4 separate regions of the Homo sapiens genome follow, and all the other regions are linked to region 2. The links come from fine-mapping of genetic effects on gene expression. A gene starts in region 2. Each other region holds a variant in brackets. All regions are shown on one strand. Distances are from middle to middle.

The links.
Region 1: its variant is fine-mapped to the expression of OSBPL3 in whole blood (TOPMed, PIP above 0.99). The same link has a PIP of 0.9 or more in blood mononuclear cells.
Region 3: its variant is fine-mapped to the expression of OSBPL3 in whole blood (TOPMed, PIP above 0.99). The same link has a PIP of 0.9 or more in blood mononuclear cells.
Region 4: its variant is fine-mapped to the expression of OSBPL3 in lung (GTEx, PIP 0.93).

The regions. Positions count from the first base shown.
Region 1 is chr7:24,906,705-24,911,906 of GRCh38, reverse strand. The region is part of intron 1 of OSBPL3 (oxysterol binding protein like 3); the gene reads left to right. Among named protein-coding and RNA genes, the nearest start is that of OSBPL3, 71 kb to the left of the region's middle. RefSeq lists an enhancer at 1,078-1,227. The variant C/T (reference allele first, on the strand shown) is at 2,416.
Region 2 is chr7:24,977,166-24,982,367 of GRCh38, reverse strand. It overlaps OSBPL3 (oxysterol binding protein like 3), which reads left to right and starts at 2,190. Exons shown (of 23, transcript NM_015550.4): 1 at 2,190-2,482. RefSeq lists an enhancer at 721-890 and silencers at 2,031-2,540, 2,591-2,800.
Region 3 is chr7:25,025,799-25,031,000 of GRCh38, reverse strand. No RefSeq gene overlaps it. Among named protein-coding and RNA genes, the nearest start is that of OSBPL3, 48 kb to the right of the region's middle. RefSeq lists an enhancer at 1,682-2,183. The variant C/T (reference allele first, on the strand shown) is at 2,222.
Region 4 is chr7:24,858,442-24,863,441 of GRCh38, reverse strand. OSBPL3 (oxysterol binding protein like 3) reads left to right here. Exons shown (of 23, transcript NM_015550.4): 9 at 150-242; 10 at 1,673-1,829. Among named protein-coding and RNA genes, the nearest start is that of GSDME, 100 kb to the right of the region's middle. The variant G/A (reference allele first, on the strand shown) is at 2,900.

The DNA.
Region 1 (5,202 bases), 70 kb after region 2:
GTAACCACCCCACCTTTTTAAAACCTGTTTACTCTGCCTTTTCCTTTTATGTCTCTCTTTTTTCCAGTTTGCACTAGTTTAAAAGTGTCTCAGGTTAAGTTTTTTGCAGTAATCTTTCTTTCCCCTAGAAGTGAGTAAAACTTCCTGTATCCCTTTTTCTCCCCACCTATGTTCCCTAAATTAGTGATTCTCTTACAAGGAATTATTATCGCCCCTGCAGTTTTGGAAGGATACCTCCAAAATATATCTTGGGGACTTCGATTTATAGAATTTGGTTTAAGCTTAGATTCTGAGTCCCAGGGTTATTTTTAGTTAAGTGGACAAACAAACTTGAAGTGTGTACATCTGATACATGACCCACTAGGGTATTTTGTTTCTTGTTATTTGAGAGTGTTCAGTTAGCACTTATAGAGCATTACCCATTGTTAGCTGGCTGTTTACATTTCTGAAAAGATGATAAGTTGATTTTTGTAGGAAATAGGGAAGTTTTAAAACTTCATGCTCACATTTCATAGTAACTCAATTGATAGTCTTTTTAGATAAGTAATGAAATGCTGCCTGTGGTTGCCAATTGTTAAAACTCTACCAAGCTTCCGCAAGCAGTTGTCGGTTAAGGGAGCGTAATAACACCCACTGATAAAATTCAAACCACCAGATGTTATTTTAAGTTCTTGGGTGGTGCTATCTTTTCTTACCCTTTAAACTGCTAAGTCACATCCTGCTTTGCATTTCAATTTGGTATAAATTGGATGCAGCAGACATAGGTCTGGCATAAGATGCTCAAACAAAATTAAATACCAAAATTAAAGAAGGCAGTTCTGTGGAGTAAATCTGTCATTTCTGGATGCAAGATTATGTTAGAGCAGTGGCTCAACCCTTGCTGTGTATCCAAATCACCTGGGAGTGTCTCAGGATGCCCTTGCCCTGGCCTCATCCCCAGTGTCTGGACCAGTTAGTATGAAATGGCACCAGGCTTTGGGATTTTGTAGAAGCTTCCCAGGGTGATCCTGTCACGCAGCCGGGGTTGAGAAATGTTGCAGGAGGTGCCCCTCCCGACCCAGCTCACAGCTTTGTCCTCCATGCTTCTCTCTACCTAGTCAAGCCCTATCCACATCTTCACGGCTCCCTGCAGGCCACCTCTTCCTAAGCTTTTTCTCACAACTCCAGCCCCACTGAGCTCTTCCCTTGTGACTGCCCATAGCACCTACCAGATGGCCCACCCTGGGGTGTGTTCTGGCTTGTTTCATTTGTGACATCTTATCTCCTTGATCACAGTGGTTTCCTCCTTGGATTAAGTTTCTGTCACTTAGTTTCCATCACTGAAGGGTTAGCACAGCAGTGGACACATAGTAGTTACTTTATAGGATATATACTGAATTGAGTTTTCATCAGTGTGCCTGTCTTCTTTTTGCCACCTGTCTTTCCACTGTAGCTTCCTTTATTAGCCCACATTTATTCATAAGTATTTCTTCCTTGTAAGGTGTTGAAGGACAAGTAAGAGTAGCTAAGCTGCAGAAGGAGGAGGAAAACTCAGCCCATTTCTGATTTCTCCATTCAGGAATGGAGGAGTTGTCATAGGACCTATGGACTCATCTCTCTCCATTCAGAACATTGATTCATCCTGATCTGTAGTGACTCTTGGGACCACGTGGGTGATAAATGCAACATGAAAGGGGCTGGCTTGCTGGAGAAGGTGAAAATGATTTGAAGATTGGATGTCTACCATCTATCCTATTTTGAGCATTTGGGATTATTTCAGGCCAGGGTAATACACACCTTCAAATTGAAAATAGTAGCTTTCGGCCAGCCACGGTGGCTCACACCTGTAATCTCAGCACTTTGGGAGGCCGAGGCAGGTGGATCACCTGAGGTCAGAAGTTCGAGACCAGCCTGACCAACATGGCGAAACCCCATCTCTACTAAAAAGTACAAAAATTAGCCGGGCATGGTGGTGTGTGCCTGTAATCCCAGCTACTCATGAGACTGAGGCAGAAGAATTGCTTGAACCTGGGAGGCAGAGGTTGCAGTGAGCTGAGATCTGAGCTGAGATCACGCCACTGCGCTCCAGCCTGGGCGAGAAAAGCAAGACTCTGTCTCCAAAAAAAAAAAAAAAAAAAAAAAAAGAAAGAAAAAAAAAACAGTAGCTTTCCTTATTTTGTCAAATAATGAAAAGGATTCTTACTGCCATAGGTTCCTGTTTCTGGCACAGGAAGCTGGCCAGGACAGAGGTGATTGGCAGCTTTCTGTTAAGACGTACAGAGGTGACCTAAGGTTCCTAATTTGAAGGCATGCCAGCTTCTTAGGGCCAATGTTATTTGTGCTATACCTGTGTAACTGAGAGATTCAAAAATTAGGTAACTTTAACACGATTAAAGTTTATTTCTCTCTCATGTAACTGTTCAGATATTGTTATTC[C/T]TTGGCTGGCATGGTGACACTATGGTCTTCAACCAGTGTGTCTTTCATTTCTGGGTCCAGCTATCACCACCTCCCAGCTCTCAGGAATGGGGAAAGGGCAGGGAACATGTGTATCTCTTTTTAGGACCATGACCTGGAAGACAAACAACTCTGCTCACATCTCATTGGCAGCCCTTAGTCACAAGCCCCTACCAAGCGGCAAAGAATGCTAGAAGTGAAAGCCTCTTATTAGATGCCCATGAACCACATTAAAACTCGAGAGTTCTATTATTAAAGAAGGGGAGAGTGGATATTGCTGGATAACAAGCCAAGGCATGCATGCTAACTTACCAAAATATCAGATCTATCAGTTATCACCCCGTTCACTGGTTTGGGTAAAAACACTCTAAATGTCAAAAGAAACCTCAAATGTATCATGAGTTCTGTGAAGTCATGGTAGAAAAGTAGAGAACTTGAGGGGGATGTTTGATGTCTCTACTTTTTGGGGAAAGGTAGACCATGTGCTTGAAAAGGACACGCAAAGTAACTACAGCACAGATAGTGTTGATAAGCCGAGTTTGGTTTGTGGAGCAGGCTCTTGCCATCTTTTGAGGACAAGTGTGTTTGGCAAGAGATTTGCTAACTTGTTTAAGAGAGTTGAACTGAAATTTGATGGGAAGGAAAAAACGTTAAAACTTGATTGGCTAGAGAACAACCGGCAGAGCAAAGATAAAAAGACCAATAACAGAGGAGGAGAACATCAGTAATTTCTTTTTAAAAAAGCCTGGGCAGCTGGTTGGTAAAATACCTGCAGCTCTTTGCCATTGTGCAGCTTATGAGAATGAAGCAAAATAAACTTGAAACATTAAAACTTGGATATAGATAGCATCACTGGATCTGTCTCACCACGGTTAGCGTGGTTCTCGTGACTAGAATATGATTTTAGAAGGGGATGTTTTACTGTAAAGAAGCAGTCTTGGGGAAATCTAGACCTTAATGATGAATCCCTGGGTAAAGAGGGCATGGTAGGGAAGAAAGATTGTAATAGGATCAGTATTATGGATGGCCAGATAGAGGCTATGGAGGGCGCTTTCTTCTCAGAAACTGAAACTTTAGAATGAATACCACATGTGCTGATAAAAAGGAGATTCAATCAGATAATCACCCACTGGATGTTTCATTCGGCTAACTTCTGATAAACTCTTGACTTGTTTTGCCGATCATTTAATTTTTAAGAAGACTGAAAAAATAATGCAGAGAATGATAGCTCTGGGTTTCTTTCTGAGCCAACAAGGAAGCATTAACTAGTGATAGAAAGTGGCAGGAACCAGGAAATGAAATCCCCAAAGAAGGATGCTTTGGGCATAACATCTCTATGGTACTAGAAATATTTGAAACAAGTCAGAGAAAAGAGAGAAATGATGTCTCTTGTGGCCAAAGACTTAAAATGGCAAGGAGATCTCACAAGGAAGGAATAGCTGAAATATTCTGAAATACATAAGTAATCCCAAATGATTCCAGTGAACAGTAAAGACAGAAGTCTCCTATGGGAATAAATAAATGTGCTCACACTGAGAACTCTTTCCTTGGCTCAACAAAGATTGCTACCAGTCTTTGTAAATTACTTTCCACAGAATGTAGAGGTGAATAAAATGCAGTCCCGAGTGAGATATAGACCCAACATCTAGCAGTCAGGATATGAAGAGTGAGTCAGAGTGCAGGAAACGTGACTAATACTTTCAGGTAGCGCAAAAGGAAAGCAGAGTCCAAGAGGAAACAAACGCATTTGGGGTGGGAGAGGGGTTGAGAAAAGGCTTCATGGAAAAGGCAATGCTGAAAGTGATCTTCGGAAGATGGAGGACTTTGCCACAGACGGAAGAGAGAAAGTGGGTTAGGAGGGTGCTCCATAAAGAAGGACTCACTAGGAGAAAGGGAGAGTGCAGAATACAGGGTATGTATATATGAGTTGTTAGAGATGAAGTTTGAGTGATAACAGCCAAAGTGTAACTGAGTGATGTCTGGCAAGGACTATGCTGAGTGTTTTACATGCATTATTTTAGTCAATCTTCACAAAACCCTGTGAGGTTAGTACAGTTATTCATGCCTGCTTTCACATGACGAAGCAACTCAGACATTTAGCCACAGAGTGAGAGGTAGATCCAGAGTCCAAAACCAGTGAAATGCAACTATGTAGTGGAGGGTTTTGCCTGCCAGGCCTTGCTATTTTACTTAAGCTTGTAGGCATTGGGAATTTGGAGCAGGGGAGAGCCTGGCGATAAATTGAACTAGGGAATGGATATAAGGATTGAAGTGCTGGGAGAGAAAATGTGGAGTCAGTTGCAGGGCCTAATGGTGGTCTAAAATGGATAGGTTGTTTTGAGAATAGAAGAATATAAAACACATTGGGGGGTGATGAGGTCAGTGTCAGGGAGAGAGAGAATCTACACTACTGGGGGCTCTGGGAGAGGGAGTTTGGTTGGATTAATAGAGGGTGGGTATCTTAATCAGAGTCAGGGAAGCCAGTGGCAGGTATTAATATCAGCATGAGGGAGTAATGAGCATAGGCTTGCTGTTCCAGTGATGAATCCAGGGGCCAACACCAGGCTGGGGACTGGAGTGTGGGGGTAGGGAGCAGTGTAGAGGCTTTACTAAGGTAAGGGGCCTGTAAAGATGATCAAGAGCTGAAGTGCATAGAGAGAAGTGGATGAGGGACAAAACTTTGGTGACTGCCCATGGAACTGGGAGAGAAAAGGAGACAGTAAGCAACACTTTAAAGTTAAGAGGTATCAGCACTCCTGTGTTCACAGA
Region 2 (5,202 bases):
AGGAAATGAAACTATGAAAAGCCACAGTACGATTCCTCCTTTACTTGGAGACAAGGCACAATGTGAATAATTCTCTCATCCTGTCCAATTAACTGCCTCAAGTACACACACACACACACACACACACACACACACACACACACACACAGAGAGAGAGAGAGAGAGAGAGAATGTACACTCTATTATTATTTGATTAGGAAGACATTAATGAAAAAGCTCGGAACGGGATGCTAAACAACAAAGCCCTATGCAAATCACTTCCTTTCGGATTGAAGGCTTGTCTCCTACAGAAAAACCAATGCTAAAGAAACAGGCGGAGAGGCTGAAGGTGGAGAGCAAAAGAAAAAGAAAGAAAATAGCTTGAACGAGGAAAGGGACTGGCAGGAGGAGGACAGAGCAAGCCTCTCTCAGAGAGAAATTACAGAAAGACGGAAGGAGGTTTGGGAAAACCCAGTCTAAGCTGCTCCGACGGCGGGGCTGGGCGTGGGCAAGGTGCCTCCTTGGACGGTCCGCGCGCCTGCCAGACGCGTCCTTCCACTACCCGTCCAGCCACCTGGCGCTGGTCGGGCTTTGCGAGGTGGTTTAGGAACCGCGGAGTCATTCGATTTGAAATCTTCTCCAATAAGCTTCTCCGTGTGCCGACGTGGGCAGCATGACAGTGGATTTGCTCGGCAGCATCTCTGGCGCCTCCCGCCCTCGCCCGCCGCCTGCCAGATCCGAAACAGACAGTCCCAGACATTTCGCGAGGGGGATGGTTCCAGAAAGCGAAGATCTGAGCGTGGTGAATGAAATGTGAACAGAATAGCTCCGGAAAGAGTCTCAGAAACCTTGAATTGGGGTCAGTTTGGAGACTGAAAATGCGTCGAGCGCTGCAGGTGGTGGTTGGCAGGGGGATTTAACACTGTGGAGCCCTTACTCCGTCCCAGGCGCTGAGCCCAGCGAGCCACGCGCGGTGCCCAGCTCGGTGAGGTCGGTTAGTTGGGTCTTCAGGGAGGCTAAATACCCTGTATTTGCTATTCCCTTCGCCTGGAACGCTCTGTGCGAGACTGGGTGTGGCAGCTCCTTTCCCAGGCTCAGGAATCTGGGTAAAAGCCACCCTCGCCTAGAGGCCCTCAGGGTGAGCGCCCCATCACGCGCTAAACCACTTTCGAAAGTGGACTTGGCCCTCCTCTCAGTACTAACAGTCTGTCAGCCTTTTATTTTTTGCATAGATATGTATTTTCTCTTCTTTATTGTCTGTCTTTCCACAAAAAATGCAAGCCCCGTGAGTACTGGAGCCTGGTGCGCCTTTCTCACAGTTGCAAGCTCGCAACTGCTCCTGGCATATACTAGGTGCTCACTAAATGCTCATGCCCTTCCCACCCGCCACCTGCGGCACTCGACACATTTGCAGTCTGCAAACTGACCCCAAACCATCAGCTGCTTGCATTCGTCCTAGGATCAAAGAAGGCCATTGGGCTAGTGGGAAGTCAAGTCGGGTGGACTTTTCCGTCTTTCAGGGAGATTTAATAGTAACGACGGTGCTCTCCCCACCTCCTACCCCCTTGCACATAAACTGCACAGAACAAAATCACCCCGGCACGAATCTGCACGACTGCCTCTGGAGGTAGGGTCACGGTCTCCGAGCCCCGGGTCTCACACTGATGCTGTCCTTTGTCATCTCGTGCCTAGAGTGCTGCCTCCCTATGTATTTCCTCTGTTCTCGACTCCTCTGCCACAGTCTGACTTTCTCGGGAGGTCGAGTTCTCCTAGCCTGTGCGACCGCAAGGGTCCCCTGGAGCCTTCTCCGTAAACCTGCCCCTCCCGCGCTGCCCTCACTTTTTCCTCCTTCCCTGGCCCGGAAAAGCCACTAGAGGAACATTTACCGAACGCCTACCGCGCGCAGGCACCGAGCTGGGCCACCGGGAGCCCCACCCAGTGCCTCGCCGCAGGACTCGCCTCCCTCCGCCCTCCCAACCCATCCGGAATCCGGGGTCCCTAGTTCCCCCGCCGCGTCATGGAATCCGCTGGCTTCTTCCGAGGACATCGCCCCACCTCCTTCCCGAAAGGCGACTTCTGATTGGTGAGATTGTGCATCACTCTGCCGCCCTCCCGCCCCCTCGGGGCCCCGCCCCTGGGCCTCTCAGGCCCCTCCCCTGCGCTCCCGCCCTTGCGCGGCTCCTCGGGCTAATCGCCGGGCGGCGCGCGCCGAGAAGTTCTGGGCAAAGTACTCAGAACTGGCCGCGTGCTGGTGGCGCCCGCCAGCCGGCCCGGGAGAGGGGACTTGAGCGCTTCGCGGCCGGTGCGCAGCGCGGCTCCGGCCCCGCAGTCTGTCTGCAAGTGGCCATCCCCGCCCCCGACTCCTGCGGCCGGTGCGGGAGCTGTCAGCTGCACGTTGCGGGGGTACCGGAGAAGCCGGGGTTGCCTTCTCCCGGTTCTGTGCGCTAACCCCGGAGCCCGGCCCCGGGGAACTAGGGAGCGTCTCCGGCTGCACAGCGCTCAGGTGAGTGGCGGGGCGCCCGCCTAAATGGGGCCTGGGTGTCGGGGGGCCTGGCGGCGGCGCGGGCTCGGAAGGGCTGCTGTTTGCGGGGCGCCGCGGTTCTCTGCCGGACCGGGGTCTGTCCGAGTCGCCCGGGGAGGCTCCGGCCCTGGGGCAGACCCAAGCCTGGGAGCTTGGGTGCCGGCTGCAGCTCCCGGGGAAGGAGGACCCGGGTCTCACCCACCCCAGGACACCTTCCCTCGAGGGACGGCTCAGAGGATTGACCGCCAGGAGGAGCCGAGCGCAGGGGCCGCGGCGCAGGTGCGGGAGGACGCGGCGCGCGGAGCTGTCCTGGGCAGCGGGGAGGCGCTACGCCGGGGCTAGAGGCTCAGGAAGCCTGGTAAATTGGGGCGAGCGCGAAGCTTTACCACATCCGCGGGATGGGGCGCGCCGGAGAGACTGAGACAACGCTCGCGGGGCAGGCGCTCCGCTCGCCCGCCTTCCCAACCCCGGCTTGCTCAGCTCCCCGGTGCTGGGCTGGAGGCCCAGGGCACATTCCTTTCTTGTCTGAATTTACATATTCATCAGCTTTCTGGCCCCTTCTGGAATTTTTTTTTTTTGTTAGTTTCCAATTACTACTGTTCAGATCACCTTCAGGCTCACCCTAACTCTCGTCTCAGTGTCTCTCACATTGGTCCTTTCCTGGAGGCCCTGCAGCGTCTTAGTTCAGGGTCTTAGGGACTTATGCACTCTGTCTGAACGTTGTCTACAGTTGGGTTTTCCTACCTCTGTCTCTGTTTATTCCGTGGTCAGGTAAATTCTTTAAGTACTGTCATCATAAGCCAGAAACTCCCAGGCAGCCTCTTAGCGCTGCCCAGCTTCCCGGGGAGCGTTTGTGGCCTCTGGAGTCGCTGATGGGCACTGTCGCAGGTCGTCCAGATACTTCTTAAGCAGGGGCGCGCCGCCCTTCCTTCGGCAACGCAACTTGCTTGCTGCCTTCTGCACACTTGTGCTTGTCCTTCTCCGCCTCACAAGCCACCAGTCTCCTCAGTCGGGACTCTTGGAGCTGAGGGGACTGTGAAGTTGTCGGTTTCCATGTGTCTGCGTACTGCGCAGAGGTGCTTGAGACCCCCTAGGTGTTGCTCTGACCCTCAGAGTTTGAGTATTGGGATGAGGGCATTTAGAAATATTTTAAACTACAGCTGCAAAAGAGATACTTCCACAGATGGGTGAAAGCGAAGGCCTGGCTTCTCATCATCTGCACTGTACCCCGCAAGTATCATACAAGGTGAGGTCCTTGGCTAAAGGACTATACTTGGCTAAAGGAGATCAGTCAAGCAGGCCTAGGTTCTTATGCATCCAAGCTAAATGACCATCCCCTCCAGCCAAGCCACATCACCCGTTTGCTGTTGCTCATAGCACTTAAATTTCTCTCTGAAATTGTCTCTTTGGGTTATTGGGTTATCTGCCTTCCCTCATTAGGATGTAAGTACCAGGAATGCAGAGACCTTGTCTGTCTTGTTCATCACTTGATCCCCTGTGTCAAGAACACGCAGTAGGTTTGCAGTAAACATTTATAGAATGAATAAATGAAACCTTCTCTGTAAATATGAGGAATGAGGATTTCATAGCTGATTTTGATTTTCATCTTTATCCTTTTTTTACTGTTGGGAAAATTAACAAATAGCAATACTAGGAACTTTTGTACATTACCGCATTAAACTTACAGAAGTCTGTTAGCTAGGTATTTTTAACCAGATGGGAAATTGAGGGTCCAGCAGGTTAACCTGTGTTGCCAAGGTTATCCTGGCAGAACTAGGATTCCAGCCCATTTTGTCTCTATTGTGCTTGACCTCTTCGAATAAACTAAAATGTGGTTTCCACCATTAGTTAATAGGCATTTAGCTTTATTTGTATCAAAAGCTATGGCTTAGCCAAAAGATTTACTGTTTTATTATTGAGATATATTTTCAGTAATCGTTAATAGTTACATCATAAGCCAGATACTCCCAGGCTGCAGTAAGCTGTAATTTTCTTTTTTCTTTTCTTTTTTTGAGACGTAGTCTCACGCTGTCGCCCAGGCTGGAGTACAGTGGCGCGATCTCGGCTCACTGCAAACTCCGCCTCCCGGGTTCATGCCATTCTCCTGCCTCAGCCTCCCGGGTGGCTGGGACTACAGGCGCCCGTCACCACGACCGGCTAATTTTTTGTATTTTTAGTAGAGACGGGGTTTCACCGTGTTAGCCAGGGTGGTCTCGATCTCCTGACCTTGTGATCTGCCCACCTCGGCCTCCCAAAGTGCTGGGATTACAGGCGTGAGCCACCGCGCCCTGCCCGTAAGCTTAATTTTCACCGTCTTGCTGGGCATTGTTGTGAGGTTATCTCCATTTTTCAGGTGAAGAATTGGAAAACGAGGTTTAGGAACTTGCCTAAGGTCACCAGTAAATTGCTGAGCTAGATTTTTTAATAGTCTGACTTCAATTCTCGCCCCACTAATTAGATGTTAACTCATGATAGAATCCAGTGATACAAATATTAAAACCATCTGAGATTGGGCTGTAAACTTTCTGGTGCTGATATCAAGTGTCTAGATGTACTGTTTTCAGAATCCCTGAGACTCTTACTGCCATTGATTTTTGTGCTTGGGTTTATGGTTTGTGGGCCTGATAGACTGGGGACTTTTAATACAGAAGGAAAGGAAATCCTCCTTTCATCTAAATCTAAAGAGAAATCTGATTTGTTTT
Region 3 (5,202 bases), 49 kb before region 2:
AAGTTTCAGAGAACAGAATCCACTCTAACCGGTTTAAGCAGGAATGGATATTAAATGGCTTGTAGCGTCATTGGGAGGGGAAAAGAAAGACTCAAGATGAAGCTTTCAGGAACCACTCACGGAGCTACACTGCTGAACTGGGCCACTAAAGGAGAGCTGCTAAATCTTTTGGTATCAGGAAGTCTCCAGCTTGACAATTGCCCCACCATTAACACAATGAGGAATTAAATTCTTTCTACACATATCTCACAGTCAAATTCTCAAAAGGAGCTAGAGTCTGTTTAGCTCCCTCGTCTCTGTATGGATGGTATTTCTTGCACCAGGCCACTCCCTAAATTTCGGACCAATTTAGAGATTGTTTGCTCTTGGGTTAGATGCTAAGTGTGTCCAAAGAGCTTCAGCCAAAGAAAGTCAATTTCATCTGGTACAAACATGGTGAAGGGTCATTGGGGATGAGAGTGTGGCCAACACATTTCCTCCTTCCTACTGTTAAGGAGATTAATTTTCCCATTATCAATACAGTTCTTCAGTGGCGATTGGTGACAAGTCGATCATCTGGTTGGATATCAATTAAATTAAAATCTGCTCTTAACCCTAATAGTCTCTTCACCTAATGCCCGACACAGAACCACAACCGCTTTAACGAAACAGGCCAAGATCGTAGAATCTTAGGACTAGGAAGAAATTCAGGGGTCATAAAATCCAGTGCTTACCGAATACCACTTTGTAACACATAGAGAAAAATAGGACAATGTAATGAGTTTTATTTTATCTAAATGAATTCAACGTAAAGACCTGGCTTTATTCTGGGATTTTTTTTTTTGTTGTTGTTCTCCTATTTCTTCAGCGATATATAGCTTTTGTTTGTTTAGGCTTTTCTTGGCAAAATAAAAATTGGGTTTTCCTTTGGGAATCCTCTCTTCAAGTTTCCTGTTGCTTTTTGATCTTATTCTGTTCATGCCCTCAAAGGCCTATACCACAGCTTTACTGTGACCTCGTGTCACTGTTTCTTTGTCAATTTCATCCTTTATTCCCCATCACCTATCAGGACATGGACTCCAGCCTCTCAGCACACCGAATTTGTGCCTGAGTGTGTGGTAAGACCTCAAGATAAAGGTTTGTCTTCTGTGATTCTTTGTCACTGCTTCGTCCCATGTCACATCTCACAGGGAATTATTTTGACACTCTCCCCTTATAAATGAGGTCCAACTCATTTGTGAGAACTTGAGCTGTAATTTGCAGTTTGTCGTGGCATGTTTTATCTACTTTGACTCGGGTTGTTTCTCTCCGTCTTATCATTTAACAAGTACATAGTCTATTTTTACTTCTCCTAACTCTAGCTTTTATTCCACCTATCCTTCGCCTGATATATTTTCCAGGACTTCTTTTTCTGGAATGATTTCTCGTTATCTCACTTATCTTAAATCCAAACTTAGTCTTTAGGTACAAGAATCTGTGACTTTTTCTATCCATTCACAAACATTTACTTATTGATGATTTCTTTTTAGGTTGCTTCCTTGGGCCGGTGAGCTCTTGGATCCATTTCTTGCCCTCCCCCAGTTCTGCCTTATGTCACAGGGCTGTGTGACCCCATGCAGGCTGGGCTTTTCAGGGCCCTGAGTCCCTTGGTTTCCAGCTGGGTTTGTGCAATGGGAGACTGGCTAGGGGGGCGGGGAGAAGCTCAGGCTCCAGCAGCCATGTCTCTCCCCACTGGTCTCACCACTGCCAGGCAGGCCCATCAAGGTCCCAGCTCTGATGACACCACCTGTCACCCAGGTCCCCTCAGCCCAGCAGCTAGAGGGCTTCTTGGTGGTGCTCAGCTCTGGGGTGCACCCCTTACCCTAGCAACCACTTCCCTGCATTGATCTCTGCTCTGAACACTCAGAGAGCTTTCTCTTTTCCAGGTTAGACCCTGACTGACATAAAGGTAAATTCTCAGAAGTTTAATTGCTGCATCACAAACTTTAAGACTTTAAAAGGAAGGTTAAAGAGATGTCTTTATGCTTTCTTACTCTCCCCAAGGCCTTTCTTCCACCTGTAACTTTCTGAGCAAGCTCAGGGCCCTTCCCTTCTACCATCTTCTCTGTTTACACATCTCAGCCCCTGGGCATTGGAATATCTGTCTGATCACAGTTCATTTTTTAAAATGATAAACAAAGCAAAGAGGTGAGATGGAAAGTCACCACTTCCTGTGGTAATTGTTATCTAGGCTTTCAGAACA[C/T]GCCTAGGCAAGTGGAAAGAATAAGCAATTATCTGCGTAATTCAAGCAAACATTGACTCCCCTTATTTGACATGAGTGGCTAGTGGAAGGAAGGGAGAAGTGGAATTAATTACTAATGCCTTTGAAATCTCAGGAATTAGCTAGGGAGTTGCTGAACTCACGACGTCATTTTTTCACGACGTCATTTTCTATCGGGAGTCTGGTGAAGGAATGGCATCTGGCTGGCCATTTCAACGATTTCACCAAGTTTTGAATTTTGGCAGGACTAAGTCAAAGAACAAAGTGACTTTTGTGGTTTCTGGAGCAGAAAGACTTAGTGACTTTGACTCAGCAAGCCAGATGAGAAGGCTCCAGGCACTGCCTCCCCAGGCATGGAGATGGCTGCCTATAAATCTGAGTTACTGCATTTTTCACTTGCATCAGACAGGGCCCTCATTAGAAACAAGGCTACCATCAAATTTGGGTCAAGGTCTGGCTTCGTGTTGTGATTTACCAAATAAAGACTATCAACTGTCTTTTTCAGGCTGCTGATTTATCTTTAGCTTTCTCTGAATTTGTGACTCTAAAAGACCGTGCTTATTTGGCAATGTAACATAATCACGAAAATAAATTGTATAGCAAGCCATTCTTTGAATGCAGACATAGGGAGGCAGCTGCGGTGGAAAGAGCCCTGATCTTGCAGTCAAGAGATCTGAGTTTGAGTCCAGACCTTACTACTCACTAGCTGAACAACCACACTCAGCCACCAAATCACAGTGAGTTTCTTATCGATTAAAATTAAGTGCTATGAAAGTGAAGAAGTTAACATGAAAGAGTAACATACAAGCACAAATTAATATTATTATTAAATTCTTCAGTTCCATTTTTTCAGTGTTGGTTATGGACTGGTGCTAACTCTCCGGCTACTTGCATCCTTTCATTAGCCCATTGTTAAAAGCAACGGATGAAATAGCAGGCGTGTCAGGGTAGCTAGTCAGGGGCTACCATTGACATGGCTACACGGGGACCAGGGTCTGAAAGCCACAGCTAAAGTAACCCTCTGTTTGATAGTCGGGTTTCAAAATTATAAACTGAGAGATCCTAGTCAGGCTCAGATGGGAGCACATCCCATTTCCTCTGCTTCCTCCCTCAGCTCGCCCTTCCTGACTTCCTGTGAGTGCCACTATTTGGACATTTTGAGGTCCTAGCAGCTCTCCTCCCATACAGCTGTGGGGACAGGCTACTCTCAGCAAGCCAGACCATCTCAGGCCGACTGGACACAGTGAGCATGAACACAGTGAACAATCTTTTAAAACAGACCCAGAAAATAACATGAAGCCAAGAACAAGGTAGATACCATTTGCAATTTAAAGTGTGATATCATAGGAACAAAAGCGTTTTGACTGTCACTGAAGCTTTGTTTTCCCAGGCCAGAAAAACTGTGAAAGAACAACTAGAAATGAATGTACACGTATTTTGTTTTGTTCTGATAAATGCTGGATCAGAGCACATTGCCTCAACTGTCTACATCCTTTCAGTCCAGAAGAATAGCCAGCAGACATCTATCTTCTCTGCAGGATGAGAAACTAAGTTTCACGGACATTCTTCAGAGGTTGTTTTCATTCCTTTTTTTTTCCCTTGAGACAGAGTCTCGCTCTGGCACCCAGGCTAGAGTGCAGTGGCACCATCTTGGCTCATTGCAACCTCCGCCTCCCAGGTTCAGGCAATTCTCATGCTTCAGCCTCCCAAGTAGCTGGGACTACAGGTGTGTGCCACCATGCCCAGCTAATTTTTGTATTTTTAATAGAGACAGGGTTTCCTCATGTTGGCCAGGCTGGTCTCGAACTCCTGGCCTCAAGTGATCCACCCACCTCAGCCTCCCAGACTGCTGAGATTACTCCAGTAGGATTTTTCTGAGTGTTCCTAGGTTTGTGATCAAATATTATAAGGCCATGAAAATGGCATTGATCTAGGCTTAATGAACTGATGAAACAAACACTTATGGATATCTTCCATATGCCAGGTGCAGTTCTAGTCAGTGCACTGAAAATACAGCAATGGATAAGAAAGGTGATCCCAGACCTCAAAGAGCTTATATTCTGGTGGGGACGGGGGGAGGTAGATAAAAAAGTATACAAATAAACATGCAATATAAATTCTAGTAGCAATAAGTTTTAGTAAAAATAAATAAATATGTAAAGCCTAGAAACTTAATATTTATAGTAAGTATACAAGAAAGAATTTAGAGACTATTTTAGATGAGGTTGTCAGGGTAGGTATCTCTGAGTGACATTAGAATTGAGACCTAAATGAGGTGAGGAAGTGGCCTCTAGGGCTGTTTGTGACAGGAGGAGCAAACTCTAATAGGATCAGCATGAGCTCCTGAGGTCGGTGTATTTGCAAAACAATGAGGCAGCCAGGGTGGCCACTCAGAGTGTGATGGAGAGAGCGCTAGGAGATGGGTCTGAACCCAGCTCCTACTGCTAAGTAGCCACAGGACTTGGCTCGATTTACTTAAATTCTAGGTGCTATGGATTTCTTGTAATTATTAAGGTTTTTGATAGCTATTAACAGAACCCAATTTTGAGCTAGGTTAACTAAAAAAGAGAATGTATAATAAGTATACAAGAATGCCTCCCAGAAAGCAAGGGCAGGAGACCATCTAGTCCTCAGGACAGAACTAGAACCAGAACTAGTGGCTAACAAGACATCACCACCACCCACAAAGCAAGACTTTCACTCTTTCTCTCACCTTTATTTCTCTCTTAATGGCATATTTCTTCTTTTCTCTCTACTGTCCAGCTTTATCTGTTCCTCTGCCAAGAGGTACCTCCTATAACATCTGAGTTGGCCCATTTAGCCCAAATGCCAGCCGTTCCCCTGTCCAGCCCCTGTTCTTGTCTCACACAAGCATGGACACAGGGCTCTGCACTCACCAAAACATAAGAGGCCCATCTGACTTTACTGAGGAGTTCGCAGGACAATGCAGGGGTTACCCTACA
Region 4 (5,000 bases), 120 kb after region 2:
CCTCCCAGCCTTTCACTAACAGTGGGATGCTGTGGTCAGTTGCTTCAGCCAAAGTCAAGGGGATGGAGGTGGTCACTTTGCTATGCATTTATCCTTGTCGGTTTGGTGGACTTTACTGTCTGTGCTCTCTTTCCTGTTTTGAAACAAAGGGTGGATCTTTTGAAAGTCCCAAAAAGGAAAAAAGATCGCACAGGAGGTGGCGGTCCAGAGCTATTGGCAAAGATGCTAAAGGAACACTGCAGGTAACCATTGCTTCCCCTGACAGACTGGTTTCTTCATTGGCCCTGCTCTGCATGCCGTGTGCCAGCAGCTACCTTGACTCAGCTAGGAGAATAGATGAGTGAATATTCTGTAGTTGTTCTTTCCAGTGTCCTCTGTAGCGAGATGAATTGAATCACTTAGATTATCTGGGTGCTAGGATAAGCACATAATGGATCGTGGGCAAGGGAGAGAATTTTTTCTAAGGGAAAAAGGGTGTGAGGTCGCAGGGACTGCTGCCATTTCTAGGGCTTTTGGTTTCCCCACCTTCACTGTTGAGCCTGCCTGTGCTCTTCCCTGCTTGTGTTTGTGCCTTGTTTTGTGGCTGCAGTTGCTGTGTGCTGTGACCTGTGTCTTCCGCTGATGCTCCATGGATTTGTCATCCCTCTAAGCCCACAGGCCTGATTCTCTGGGCACAGGACATGGTGTAGATTCTCCTTGGCCTCTTATCTCCAAACTCCCAATCCCTCATCCAGGATTCACTGTGTCATGCTAGGAGCTTTCCCAATGCACAGCTAAGCCACAGGCCAAGATTTGCAGCTTAACTGTTGCATATTAATTGCAACAGTTTTAGAATCAACATAAATCTCAAGCTTTTGGTTAGGTCACCTGATACACTTGTGTACACTCTTTGGTTCAAAGTAGTTTATGGACTGAAGATAAGCACTTTGGAAGTAAAGAATGTTCCATGTACAAATGAAGGTCATTTGTTTTGTAGAAGCCCTAGGTGCAAAGAAAAGCATTTTAAACCTATCCATTACTAACCGCCTGGATACATGGATGATTATTGCCAGGAGGAAGGAATTGAGTATAAATGAGAAAGCCTGGCAGCTTTAGCTGTCATTTTCAACCTATAGCTTTAATGCTTCTATCATTTCCAAAAGAATATGTGATTTCTCACCCATTTTTAGCTCACAAGAAGCAAGTTTCTGTGGAAAGTGTTGTCTTGAGTTCTCATTTTTTAAAATAAGTTATCACTCAGTAGAAAGACCTACCTAGGCTGGGCGCGGTGGCTCACGCCTGTAATCCCAGCACTTTGGAAGGCTGAGGCGGGCAGAACACAAGGTCAGGAGATCGAGACCATCCTGGCTAACACGGTGAAACCCCGTCTCTACTAAAAATACAAAAAATTAGCCGGGCGTGGTGGCGGGCGCCTGTAGTCCCAGCTACTTGGGAGGCTGAGGCAGGAGAATGCTGTGAACTCGGGAGGTGGAGCTTGCAGTGAGCGGAGATTGTGCCACTGCACTCCAGCCTGGGTGGCAGAGCGAGACTCCATCCCCCCCAAAAAAAAAAAAAAAAGACCTACCTATAAAATGTTTTGTATTTGTATTACCATGTTTCAATCTTAGAATCAAGTAAATATTCTAAGCAATCTGCATCTGAAAAGAAATATCTCCCTTTGGTGTTACTTCAGGTCCCGAAACCTTTTTCTGGCCCAGTAAGACTACACTCCTCCAATCCTAATTTGTCAACACTAGATTTTGGAGAAGAGAAAAATTATTCTGATGGCTCTGAAACCTCATCAGAGTTTTCTAAAATGCAAGAAGATCTGTGTCATATTGCCCATAAAGGTAAATGAGTTTTCTTTCTTCCTAATGTGTTTGATGAAAATGTTAAGTGCATGTCTGAATGTGAGATGTCCTTAGAGAGAGTATCTTAGTTGGTTCATTTTCTGCTCTATTAAGATTTAGGGAAACCTAATCTTTATTTTATTTCCCTAGTAGTGGAGAATGTATTGGCAAGAACTTTCTTTTTAACCTTGTGGGGGAGACAATGAGAGAGAGTTAGTACTTTAAAAGCTGAGCAATTCATGTGATGTTGGTGGGAGTGTAAATTGGTAATTTTCTGGAGGGCAATATGATATTATTTTCTCACTATTTTTAAAATCTGCCTATCTAGCAATTCCACTTTGAAGAATTCATTGTAGGAATTAACTTAGAATTTATCCAAACAAAGTATCCATTTTGCATTGTCACATCAAAAATTAGAAATAGGTATTCAACATCATTAGCCATTAGGAAAATGCAGATTAAAGCCATGATGAGATATCACTACACACCTATTAGAAGAGCCAAAGTTAAAAGGAAATATAGTATCAAATGCTGGTGAAAATGCATATAAATTTAATCTGTCATACATTGCTTGTAGCTATGTAAAATGGTGTAGCCACTCTGGAAAACAGTTTGGCAGTGTTGTATAAAATTAAACATGCATTTACCATGCAACCCAACACTCATTTCTGAGCATTTGTTCCAGATAAATGAAAATTTATGTCCACACACAAATCTATACCCATGTTCAAAGCAAGTTTATTTGTATTGGCCAAAGACTGGAAACAAACTCAAGTGGTTTTCAACAGATGAATGGTTAAACAAACTGTGGTACATCCATACAATGGAATACTCCTCAGCAATACCAAGGAACAAACTATTGATATACATAGCAACTTGGATGGATCTCAGGGACGTTATGCTGACAGAAAATAACCAATCTCAAAACATTACATAGTATAGGTGTATTACTCCATTTTCATGCTGCTGATAAAGACATACCCGAAACTGGGTAATTTATAAAGAAAAAGAGGTTTAATGGACTCACAGTTCCATGTGGCTGGGGAGGCCTCACAATCATGGCAGATGAC[G/A]AAAAGCATGTCTTACATGGTGGCAGGCAAGAGAGAATTAAAGCTAAGTGAAAAGGGAAACCCCTTATAAAACCATCAGATCTCATGAGACTTATTTACTACCACAAGAACAGTATTTGGGAAGCCACCCCCGTGATTCAATTATCCTTCACTGAGTCCCTCCCATAACACATGGGAATTATGGGAGCTATAATTCAAGATAAGATTTGGGTGGGGACACAGCCAAACCATATCTGTAGGGTTCCACTTACATAAATGTTTTGAAATGATATAATTATGGAGATGGAGGAAGTAAAGGGGAGTGTGATTATAAAGGGGTAGCACAAGGGATCTTGTAGTGATGAAAAATTCTGTATCCTGATTGTGGTGCTGGTTACAGGAATGTGGACATGTGATAAAATTGCATTTACTTATACCCACACACATACAAACAGATCAGTGAATGTAAATCTGGTGAAATCTGAATAAAATCTGTAGATTATACTAATGTCAACTCCCACGTTTTTATATTGTACCATAGATGTGTAAGATGTAACTACTGGGAGAAACTGGGTATAGGGTATGTGGGACTTTACTATTTTGCAATTACCTGTAAGTCAATAATGATTTCAAAATAAAAGGTTAAAAAAATAGAAATAATCTAAATGCCAAACAATAGGGGATTGAATTTTTTCAAAAACGTAATATAATAGAATACTCACTAATAATAATAATGAGAGCTACTTAACATCGAGCACATAACTGTCACGTCAGGTATTTGCTAATTACTTTACGTGCATTATTTTAATTCTAGCTGCAGCCTGCGAAGTAGGTATCATTATGATCTCTATTGCATAAATAAGAAACTTGAGACTTAGATAAAATAACAGCTTCCTGAGGGTCACATGGTTACAAAGCAGCCAGCATGAGACTTGAATTCTCACCTGTTTGACCCCAGAGTCCATAATCCTTACCTGGTATTTCTCTGCTCTTACAGATGGAGTGGCCAGCGTTATTTTTTATAGTTGTAGAAAGATGTCCTCAGCATAAAATGTAAAGTAAAAATGTAAGGTTACAAAACAATATATAGGTATGATCCTATTTCGGGCATATATAGGTATACTAAAAAGTCTGGAAGGATATATACAAACATTTAAGTGATGGAGGCTGGAGTTCTAAGTGCTTATTTATCTTTCTGCTTAACTTTTTTTTCAATTTTCATATATTATTTCTTAAAGAGAAAATGGATTTAAAATTTTTCAGTGGGAGGGCAGTGTGTAATATGGGAAGAGAGAAGATATTCCCTCTATTGCCTTCCTTTCCTACTTCGTATTTTTGTTTCGTACATTACTGATTCCTTCAGCTCTCTCTTCCCTTACCCTCTAAATTTAAAACATGTTGGATATGAGGTGGGTTATAAGGAAACCATTTCATCCTTTATACAGATTGCTACCTGGAATGCTTGTCCTAATTACCATTAGACTGTTATGAGTGTTTTGTTGTGCAGTTCATCCGTGAAATGGCAAGAGTTACCTGGCCCACCCTTAAAGGATCTTCAAAGAATTTGAAGAATTAAAATAATCAGTTGCAATTAGGGCATCTTAAGTTTTGTGGGAGGAAATTCCTATAAAACATTGTTACTTTTTAATAATACAAACTTTTAAACAATGAGAAGATAATGCCTCCCTACACAGAGGAAATGTCCTGAGTTTCACCTCCATTGAAGAAGCTGCCTCCTCAGCAGGACAAAGGTTGCCATACTGAGTGGATCCATTGATCCAGTCCTCCTGCAGAGGTCTCCACCTTGTTGAAAGTCTGTAATGGGCCCCATCCAGCAGTTCTGTCTTTCCCACTTTGTGAAAACCTGCTGGCTGCAGAGCTGCCACATACCTAGACTGGGCCAAGGTTTGTCCTGGAGAAAGGTCCAATGCACTTATTCAACAGTTGCCTGAGCCCTGTGGGCTTACAGACAACAAATTCCACAGGGAGCCTAACAAGGTGTTTCATTCCTGTGGTTTTACAGTACACTTGCAGAGAGGGAAAGATCTTCCTTTTCCTGGTTCAGGGAGTCTCTTGCACAGATTGTAATTTGGGGGCCTCAGAGAATAAAGACAGCTCTCAG